3 linked regions of the Homo sapiens genome follow. The protein of the gene in region 1 purifies or fractionates together with the protein of each later gene. This does not show direct contact. Each region holds a gene or a part of one and is shown on either strand. Other genes may lie near its edges.

Evidence for each region.
Region 2: the proteins of RHBDF1 (region 1) and ADGRG5 purify together in Homo sapiens (co-immunoprecipitation; one large-scale study listed by IntAct). This does not show direct contact.
Region 3: the proteins of RHBDF1 (region 1) and TMED5 purify together in Homo sapiens (co-immunoprecipitation; one large-scale study listed by IntAct). This does not show direct contact.

The regions. Positions count from the first base shown.
Region 1 is NC_000016.10:59,984-62,671, reverse strand, and holds part of RHBDF1 (inactive rhomboid protein 1), read left to right. Parts: coding exon 1-134; intron 135-619; coding exon 620-874; intron 875-975; coding exon 976-1,087; intron 1,088-1,212; coding exon 1,213-1,287; intron 1,288-1,390; coding exon 1,391-1,552; intron 1,553-2,132; coding exon 2,133-2,233; intron 2,234-2,392; coding exon 2,393-2,456; intron 2,457-2,573; coding exon of another isoform or gene 2,574-2,630; exon of another isoform or gene 2,631-2,688. UniProt on the Homo sapiens protein: Regulates ADAM17 protease, a sheddase of the epidermal growth factor (EGF) receptor ligands and TNF, thereby plays a role in sleep, cell survival, proliferation, migration and inflammation. Does not exhibit any protease activity on its own.
Region 2 is NC_000016.10:57,559,529-57,563,180, forward strand, and holds part of ADGRG5 (adhesion G-protein coupled receptor G5 isoform 1 precursor), read left to right. Parts: intron 1-2,527; coding exon of another isoform or gene 2,528-2,565; coding exon 2,566-2,629; intron 2,630-2,855; coding exon 2,856-2,931; intron 2,932-3,562; coding exon 3,563-3,652. UniProt on the Homo sapiens protein: Orphan adhesion G-protein coupled receptor (aGPCR). Ligand binding causes a conformation change that triggers signaling via guanine nucleotide-binding proteins (G proteins) and modulates the activity of downstream effectors, such as adenylate cyclase.
Region 3 is NC_000001.11:93,170,354-93,174,005, forward strand, and holds part of TMED5 (transmembrane emp24 domain-containing protein 5 isoform 1 precursor), read right to left. Parts: intron 1-3,652. UniProt on the Homo sapiens protein: Potential role in vesicular protein trafficking, mainly in the early secretory pathway. Required for the maintenance of the Golgi apparatus; involved in protein exchange between Golgi stacks during assembly.

The sequences.
Region 1 (2,688 bases):
TCCACATACCCGGATGAAGTTTTCGAGTCCCCATCGGAGGCAGCGCTAAAGGACTGGGAGAAGGCACCGGAGCAGGCGGACCTCACCGGCGGGGCCCTGGACCGCAGCGAGCTTGAGCGCAGCCACCTGATGCTGTGAGTGCGGCAGGCAGGGAAGAGGGGCAGAGAGAGACCCCGGGGCCCGTCAGGAACAGCTGGGCGAGTATCGGCATTCACCTCTGTGGGCGATGGAAGGGGTAGCCTCAGGGACTGGGAACTCACTACTCACTGGGCCACCAGGGGTGGGAGACGCAGAGCTGGGCATGGCCCCAGTCTCATGGCTTGCCTGTGGAATGGGACAGCAATCTTAGAACCCAGGGGCTGGGCAGAATCCAACGGGGAGGCGGAGGTGACAGAGGTGATACTTGCTGAGTTGCAGAAGTCAGTGTGTCCCCGTTCCAGCTCCCTGCCATCCCCGGAGGCCCGCAGTGTTGCTTTTTTACTGGCAAGGAGAAGGCAGATGCCGGGCGACTTGCGCAGTATATTCGCCAGGATAGAGACAGGGTGCCCTGGTGCCCCCCGGGGAGGGACTGCAGCAGTTTGCGGGGCTGGGGCGGGAGGTGAATGCCGGCTCCCTCCAGGCCCTTGGAGCGAGGCTGGCGGAAGCAGAAGGAGGGCGCCGCAGCCCCGCAGCCCAAGGTGCGGCTCCGACAGGAGGTGGTGAGCACCGCGGGGCCGCGACGGGGCCAGCGTATCGCGGTGCCGGTGCGCAAGCTCTTCGCCCGGGAGAAGCGGCCGTATGGGCTGGGCATGGTGGGACGGCTCACCAACCGCACCTACCGCAAGCGCATCGACAGCTTCGTCAAGCGCCAGATCGAGGACATGGACGACCACAGGTAGGCGTGGCAGGCAAGGCCTGGGTTGGGATGGAGGCTCCCGGGGGAGGGTGGGGGCTCCGGGTCGGGGATGAGGCCCCCGCTGACGCTCCACCCCGCAGGCCCTTCTTCACCTACTGGCTTACCTTCGTGCACTCGCTCGTCACCATCCTAGCCGTGTGCATCTATGGCATCGCGCCCGTGGGCTTCTCGCAGCATGAGACGGTGGACTCGGTGAGCCCCTGTGCCTTCCCTGGGCCCAGACGAGTGGAGTCCGGGCACTGGACCCCCTCCCGACCCGCTCTGGGAGGAGAGGGCCAGAGTCGGGGCCCGTCTGATCCCGCTCCCCAACCTCCCAGGTGCTGCGGAACCGCGGGGTCTACGAGAACGTCAAGTACGTGCAGCAGGAGAACTTCTGGATCGGGCCCAGCTCGGTGAGGACGGGGCTGGGGGCGGGGCCGGCGGGGGCGGGACCTGGAGGTGCCCGGCGGGGGCAGGAGGCCCCGGACTGCGGCCGCTCGTCTCCCTCGCCCGCAGGAGGCCCTCATCCACCTGGGCGCCAAGTTTTCGCCCTGCATGCGCCAGGACCCGCAGGTGCACAGCTTCATTCGCTCGGCGCGCGAGCGCGAGAAGCACTCCGCCTGCTGCGTGCGCAACGACAGGTCGGGCTGCGTGCAGACCTCGGAGGAGGAGTGCTCGGTGCGTTTCCCCGCCCGGGACTCCCGCCTTCGTCTGCCCGGTGTTCGCTCTTCAGACCTCAGATAGACTCGGCAGAGTGATCCTTCGCCCTCGTTCCTGGCACATCCCGCCGTCCTTACGCGCAAGGCCTTGTCATATTCATTCCTCCTCATCCCCACCCTCCCCCATCTCCAGCTCCTCGCCCCGTAGACCATCATCTGATTTGGTCTTTTGATTTGGGTGTACTCTTCCAGCATGTGTCTTAAAGCTTACATAAGTGGTATTTGCCTCTTTTCCACTAAGCAATTTTTAAAAAAATTCATCCCAACTTTCATCACATCATCTTATGTGGAAGTGCCGTAGTCCATACCAGTTCCCTGATTTAGGACACAGAGGTTGTTTCTGATTTTCAGCTAACAGGAATTATGCCGTCAAACTCCTTGTAAGAGTCTTTTCCAACATGCACGTGCATCTCAAGAGTGGGGGTGACTTGTAGAAGCGGAGGGAAGAGCTCAGTGGTTTTGCCTTCGACTCCTGACTCCCTGCGTGCCCCTCATTGCCCTGACCCAACTGGACCTGACCCTGTGTCCCCCTCCCACAGTCCACGCTGGCAGTGTGGGTGAAGTGGCCCATCCATCCCAGCGCCCCAGAGCTTGCGGGCCACAAGAGACAGTTTGGCTCTGTCTGCCACCAGGATCCCAGGTTAGTCCTGCCGGCAGCTCTCTCACCTGCCTTTGTCCACACCTTCCCCGGGGGCTGTGGTGCAGAGGGTGTAGGGGCTCCTCTTGTTGGCGACTTGGCTGGAAGGGTGCCAATGCTAGGGGCTCGAAGCCGGTCTGACCACATACTTGGCTCATGCAGGGTGTGTGATGAGCCCTCCTCCGAAGACCCTCATGAGTGGCCAGAAGACATCACCAAGTGGCCGGTGAGCTGCAGTGGGGGGGTTGTTAGGGAGCCCTCCGTGTCATGTGGGAGAGAATGCCACACCCCACCCACTGGTGATACCAGAGATTCCCATCATGGGACCACCTCACGTTTTCAGAGGCTGTGCACCTGCCCTTTGTACAGCCTGTCCATCAACCAGCGCCTGCCCCTCTGAGCAAGTAGATCAAGAGAACTAGATGGAGACTTGAAAGGTCAAGTGACATTATTCCAGT
Region 2 (3,652 bases), about 57 Mb from region 1:
CAGTAAACTGCCACTCTAGCTAATGCTCAGCCATTAAGATTTCATTAAGATACTAGTCATTTTCTCCTTATCTACTTTTGCGGCAACTACCTATTCCTCTGTGCTCTGTCAAACATGAAACAGATCATGTGTTTCATCCATCAAAGATAATGTGTTCTAGTTACCTCCAGAAACCAGTTTGCTTGGTGGCCTGTGACCCCAGCTCTCCAGTAGGCTAAAAAAAAAAAAGATTTTGTATATTATTTGGCTTTCCCATTGTTATGATGGGAACAATACTCCCATCTGACTCTCTACTTTCTAGGTGGAAATCGAAATCATCTTAATATGGTTTTTACACAATTAAAAAAACTCCTGTTCAATGTTTCTATTATGACTATATGCATTACATTCCATATTAAATCATGTAGCGGCATTTCGTTTTCTTGTACAACTTGGTTTTCTTGAAATTAATTGCTTCTTTTTATTTTTGCATTTATAAACTTCGGTAAGACATCTCAAAAAACAATTTTTCTAGATGTTCAAACCTATTCGATAGTCTATCTACTCTCCTTTTCCTCTTCCTTATTTTTTTCTTGAAGACCTCCCTCCCAGGGCATTCTTTTCTCCTGCTCCCTCCGGATGGGAAATGCCCTAGTCCTGCTGTTCAGCATCAACCCGGGCCTTCCCTTCACACATTTTCTGGGGAGTAGCTTTACCTCTCCCATGGTAGGATACAGGGTTTCCTGTACCCTGTGTCTTCCTTCATGATATACTTTCTCATTTTGTTGGAGCACATCCTCCAGCAGCTTCTCAAGAAAGGATGTGTGTTTTGAAATTCTCAGTAATCCTTGGTTGACCATTCAAGAGAGGAGCACTAAAAACCTAATTGCTTGGCAGAGCTTGGTGACTGGTGAAATTTCACTGTAAGTTAGGTCTTGGCCATAACATTGAGGAACACAAAAATGGAAGTAGCTATAGGATACTATTCTTGGAATGGTTAGCTCCTCAGAGACTTTTCTCCTGCCTTGGGGCATAACCCTGGTTGCTGCAGTCTTCTGGAATCTGAGTGGGGGAGGATGTGGGGAGGGGATATTGCTTAATTCCCCCTTCTGTTCTGATTATGGTGCATCCTCTCTCCAGAGAGTAAACTTTGTGTGGAGCAGGATTGGGGATGGTAGGATGGTGAGGAAACTCCTGAATACTGGAGGTGGCAGGGGAGATCTGGGGACTGAGTTGGGCATTTTAAAGACTCACAACCAACAAACTCTGTTTTTATTTTTATTTTTTATTTTTTTGAGACAAGGTCTCATTCTGTTGCCCAGGCTGGAGTGCAGTGGTATGATTTTGACTCACTGCAGCCTCCATCTCCTGGGCAGGATCCACCTCACCCACCTGAGTAGCTGGAGACACAAGTGCAGGCCACCATACCCAGCTAATTTTTGTTTTCTTTTTGTAGAATCAGGGTTTTGCCATGTTGCCCAGGCTGGTCTGGAACTCCTGGTCTCAAGCGATCCTCCTGCCTTGGCCTCCCAAAGAGTTGGGATCACAGGCATGAGCCGCCATGCCTGGCCAACAATCGCTGTTTTTAGCCTCTTCCTTCATCCCCTCTTCAGAGGTTACTGATGCCCCCAGTTCTCAAGTGCTTCCAAGGTTGTGAGGCTTCTCCTTGTCTCCTGCCAACACCACACCTCTCCCCACTGCAGGCACTTGGGTTCAACTTTTTTTGGTCTGCTAAACGTCTTACCAGGTGCCACCTACTTGTAGCCTCCAAAATTTAGCTGACATCTCCCATCTCTGCAGTTGTTTTCTTTCCCATTGTTCTGTCTTTGTGCCTGTTTTCTAAGGAGTAGCTTTACCTCTCCCATGGTAGGGTACAGGGTTTCCTGTACCCTGTGTCTTCTTTCATGATTTACTCTCTCATTTTGTTGGAGCACATCCTCCAGCAGCTTCCTGAGAGGCTTTGTGCCTCCTTTCTTCCCCATTGTACTGTTTTTCATGCCTCTTTTCTTTCCCATTGTTCTGTGGCTTTGTGCCTATTTTATTCATTCCCTCTCATTTTAGTGGGGCTTTAAGGGGCAGACATAAATTTGCTCTATTGAAGCAGAAGTTTATTAGTTCATTTTAAAATGGAGGAAAATGAGGGCAGAGGAGAGACAGATCCTACCCAAAGCCGCACGATGAGTTAATGGCAGGGCTGGATGGGGTTTACCTGTTGCTTTCTCCCAAACACCGTCCCCCTGGGTAGAGACTGGGATCCTGGGGAAGCCCCCAGAAAGACTGCTTTTTGGGAAGGGGAGTGTATCAGGCGGAGCTGCTAATGGCAGCCATTACTTGGTGGTCAAGGATTCTGGAGTCTTAGAGACCTGGCTTTAGGCAGGTTTAAGTAAAGCAAGACCCTTTGCCCTTCATCCTCAGCTTCCTCATCTGTGAAATGCAGGAGTGGTGAGTCAAATAAGATGCTGCATGTCCTACTCTTGGGACATGCCAGACACCTAGAAGTTAGAGGTTGCTCTTTTATCATCATGGTGATGGCATGCACCTTTTTCAGGGCCGGAGCCAGTTCTTGGAGGAGACTCTGCACAGGGCATGGATCACTGTGGTGCCCTTTTCCTGTGCCTGTGCCTTCTGACTTTGCAGAATGCAACAACAGGTAAGGGGGCTCTGCTGAACTGGGGGCAGCCCTAGCCCAGTCGTGGGACTGTGATGCAAAAGGGGGAGGCGTCAAACCATGGGAGATTGAAAAGGGCCACTTAGGCTTCCTGGGGGCAGCAGGAGCTGCTTGTGAACTAGACTCTCAGGGTGGGATGGAAAGCCCAGAGGTTGTGGGGCCAGAGGGCAGTTGAGACACAAACTGAGGGGGAGGTGTGTCCCCACAGAGACATGGGAAGAACTCCTGAGCTACATGGAGAATATGCAGGTGTCCAGGGGCCGGAGCTCAGTTTTTTCCTCTCGGTGAGTTGGATGTGCCTCCCACCCCAAGCCTGCACCTTGAATCAGTGGGTCAGGGTTAGTCTAATGTAGACTCTTAACTGTGCATTTCTTCAGCACTTTTATTGAGCACCTACTGCATGCCTGACACTAGGCTCTGGGGATGCAGGATGGGCATGTCACTGCCCTCATGAAGTTTATCATCGAGGAATGGGGGCCCTTAATCATAGATGTCATGACACTAAGTGCAGAATTATGGGTCTCCATGCATTTTCCTGGGAAGGGGGTCTAAGATTCTGGCTGGGCTCTCCAGGGTCTATGACCCAAAGACTGAGCAGCTCTAGGTGAGCGGCCAATGCTGAAGACTGGTCAGGGCTAAGAGTGGCTACTGGGAAGCTGTGAGGGAGCAGTCAGGGAAGGCTTCCTGGAGGAGGTGACAATAAACTGGGACCTGAACAGGAGTTAATCAAGAGGAGGGGATAGATGGGGTAGGGAGGTAACAGTGTGCCAAGGACACTGTGTGTGCAGTGGTCTGGAGGTGCGTGTGACAGAGGTGTGGGTGGGGAGGCCCTGCCCTCCCAGGCTGTCTACAGCCCCCTCTCACCCTTACCCCACTCCGGGCTCTGGCCTCCCTGGCCATCTCTCTGGGCTGCAGTCAACTCCACCAGCTGGAGCAGATGCTACTGAACACCAGCTTCCCAGGCTACAACCTGACCTTGCAGACACCCACCATCCAGTCTCTGGC
Region 3 (3,652 bases), on another chromosome or scaffold:
ACTGGGAGCGGCCGGCCGGCCTGCAAGCCCTGGGCAGTGAGAAGCTTAGCACCTGGGCCAGCAGCTGCTGTGCTCGATTTCTCGCAGGACCTTAGCTGCCTCCCCGCGGGGCAGGGCTTGGGACCTGCAGCCCGCCATGCCTGAGCCTCCCCTCAGCCCCCCACTGTGGGCTCCTGCGCGGCCCAAGCCTCCCCGAAGAGCGCCACTCCCTGCTCCACGGCACCCAGTCCCATCAACCGCCCAAGGGCTGAGGAGTGCAGGCGCACGGCATGGGACTGGCAGGCAGCTCCACCTGCGGCCCAGGTGCGGGATCCACTGGGTGAAGCCAGCTGGGGTCCTGAGTCTGGTGGGGACTTGGAGAATCTTTATGTCTAGCTAAGGGATTTTAAATACACCAATCAGCACTCTGTGTCTAGCTCAGGGTTTGTAAATACACCAATCCACACTCTCTGTATCTAGCTAATCTAGTGGAAAACTTTTGTTGTCTAGCTCAGGGATTGTAAACACATCAATCAGCACCCTGTCAAAACAGACCAATCAGCTCTCTGTAAAACAGACCAATCAGCTCTCTGTAAAATGGACCAATCAGCGAAATGTGGGTGGGGCCAGATAAGAGAATTAAAGCAGGCTGCCTCAGCCAGCAGTGGCAACCTGCTGGGGTCCCCTTGTACACTGTGGAAGCTTTGTTCTCTTGCTCTTTGCAATAAATCTTGCTGCTGCTCACTCTTTGGGTTCACACTGCCTTTATGAGCTGTAACACTCACCACGAAGGTCTGCAGCTTCACTCCTGAAGCCAGCGAGACCACAAACCCACCAGGAGGAACGAACAACTCCAGACACGCCACCTTAAGAGCTGTAACTCTCACTGCAAAGGTCTGCAGCTTCACTCCTGAGCCAGCGAGACCACAAACCCACCAGAAGGAAGAAACTCCGAACACATCCGAACATCAGAAGGAACAAACTCCGGACACGCTGCCTTTAAGAACTGTAACACTCACCGCGAGGGTCCGCGGCTTCATTCTTGAAGTCAGTGAGACCAAGAACCCGCCAATTCCGGACACAGTGGAACATTATTAATAAATCTATACCCACAAATTTGAAAACTTAGATGAAACAGGCCAATTCCTTGAAAGATATAAAGTACCAAAACTCATACAAGAAATAGATAACCTGAATAGGCCTGTATCTGTTACAGAAATTATACTGATAATTAATAACCTCCCCCAAAAGAAAGGACCAGGACCAGACAGTTTCAATGGTGAATCCTACCAAACATTTATGGACAAAATGAAACCAATTCTCTAAAATCTCTTACAGACAATAAAGGCTGAGGGAACAATTCTTTACTCATTCTGTGAGGCCAACATTACCCTAATTCTAAAACCAGAAAAGACATTACAAGAAATGGAAACTACATACCAGTATCTCTTAGGAACACAGATGCAAAAATCTTCAACAAAATATTAGCAAAGCTGATTCGACAATGTAAACAAAGAATTACAACCATGACCAGATGGATTTGTTCCAAGTATATAAGCCTGGCTCAACATTCATGAATTATTTTGTGTAATTCATCACATCAACAGGCTAAGGAAGAAAACTCAGATGATCACAGCAATGGGTATGGAAAACATATTTGATAAAATCCAATATCAATCCATGATATTTAATATTAAAAAAATCTTAGCAAACTAGGAATAGAGGGGAACTTCCTCAACTTAAGAACATTTACAAAAATCCTACAGCTAAGATCACACTTAATGGCGAGAAACTAGAAGCTTTCTCACTAAAATCAGAAACAAGACAAAGATGCTACTCCCTCATTACTCCTACTCAGCACTATACTGGAAGCTCGAGCTAATGTAATACAACAAGAAAGGGAAAGAAAAGACATACCTATTGGAAAAGAAGAAATAAAACTGTCCTTGTGATAGTCCATGTAGAAATCCTAAAGAACTGCCAAAAAAAAACCCGTCCCGGAACTAATAAGTGATGATAGCCAAGTCTCAGTATACAATATTAACATACAATAGTCAACTGCTTTCCTATACACCAGCAACAAGCAACTGGAGTTGGGAATAAAAAATACAATACCATTTACGTTAGCACTAAAAGAAAAAAAAAGAAAAAAAGAATTAGGTACAAATCTACCAAAATATGTACAAGATCTATAATCCCAGTAATCCCAGCTACTCAGGAGGCTGAGATGGGAGGATCCTGAGCCCAGGAGTTTGAGACCAGCGGAGTTACACAGCAAGACCTCATCTCAAAAAAGAAAAAACAAATTAGTACATTGTTGGTGGGAATGTAAATTAGTACAGCCCTATGGAAAACAATATGGTGGTTCCTCAAAAAACCACAAATACAACTACCATATCATCTAGTAATCTCACTTCTGGTATACATCCAAAGGAACTGAAATCAGTATGTAAAAGAGATATCTGCACTCCCATATTCATTGAAGCATTATTCACAATAGTCAAGACATAGAAACAACCTAAGTGTCCATTAATGAATGAATAAAGAAAATGTGGTATAGATACACAATGGAATACTGGAGGACATTACACTAAGTGAAATAAGCCAGGGACAGAAAGACAAATACTGCATTATCTCATATGTGGAATTCCTAGAATTCCATACAGTTCCATTCCTAAAAGTGGAGAGTAGAACGATGGTTACCAGAAGCTGGGGGTGGGGGACTTGGGGAGAGAGGGAATAGGGAGCTGTTGATCACAGAGTACAAAGTTTCTGATAGACAGAAGGAATAGGTTTTGAGATCTATTGCACAGGAAGGTGACTATGGTCAATAATAATGTATATTTCAAAATAACTGAGACTGAATTTCAAATAGCTCATCATAAAAAATTATAGGCAAGGCAATGTTAATTAGCCTGATTTAATCATTACATGTTGTATATATGTATCAAAACATCACGCTATACCGCATAAATGTATACAATTATAATTTGCCAATCAAAAATAATACTGATAATAAATTTTTAAAGCTAATGATGTAGAAGATAGAGCTGAAGAAATTATCCATAAAATAGGAGAGTGAGACAAAGAGAGAAATTATGAGAGATTAAGAAGCTTGGATGATCCACTTAAACTGCAGTGAAAATGCAGAAGCAGAAAATTTAAAAAGCTACAAGAGAAAATAGAGATGAACTACAAATATATAACAAACTGACAGGAAGCTTCAACAGCTATAATCGAAGTCAGAAGACAATAAAATACTAGTTTTGATGCATTTAGGAAAAATATCTGTCAGTGAAGAATTCTTTAAGTAATTCAATTCTTTAAGAAAAGTCAAGAGAGCAGAGCCGTAAGAACCAGAGGAAAACAAATTAAGCCTGAAATCAGTCCTATTCAGACTTCCAGTTATATGAACCAATAGACTTCCTTATTAAAAACTGATTTGGTTTGTTTACCTATTGGTAAAAACTTTGTAAGGACTTAAAGACCATGACATTTTAATTAAATAATCATATGTGTTTCACCCCATCAAACCCTATATGTTTTTATGAGTATGGGAAAAGGTGTGGAAGAGTTCACATCTAGGAGAATGACAACAGGCATTCAATAGAGTTACAAAGAGGTTTTTTTTTGTTTTTTTTTTGAGATGGAGTCTCACTCTGTCACCCAGGCT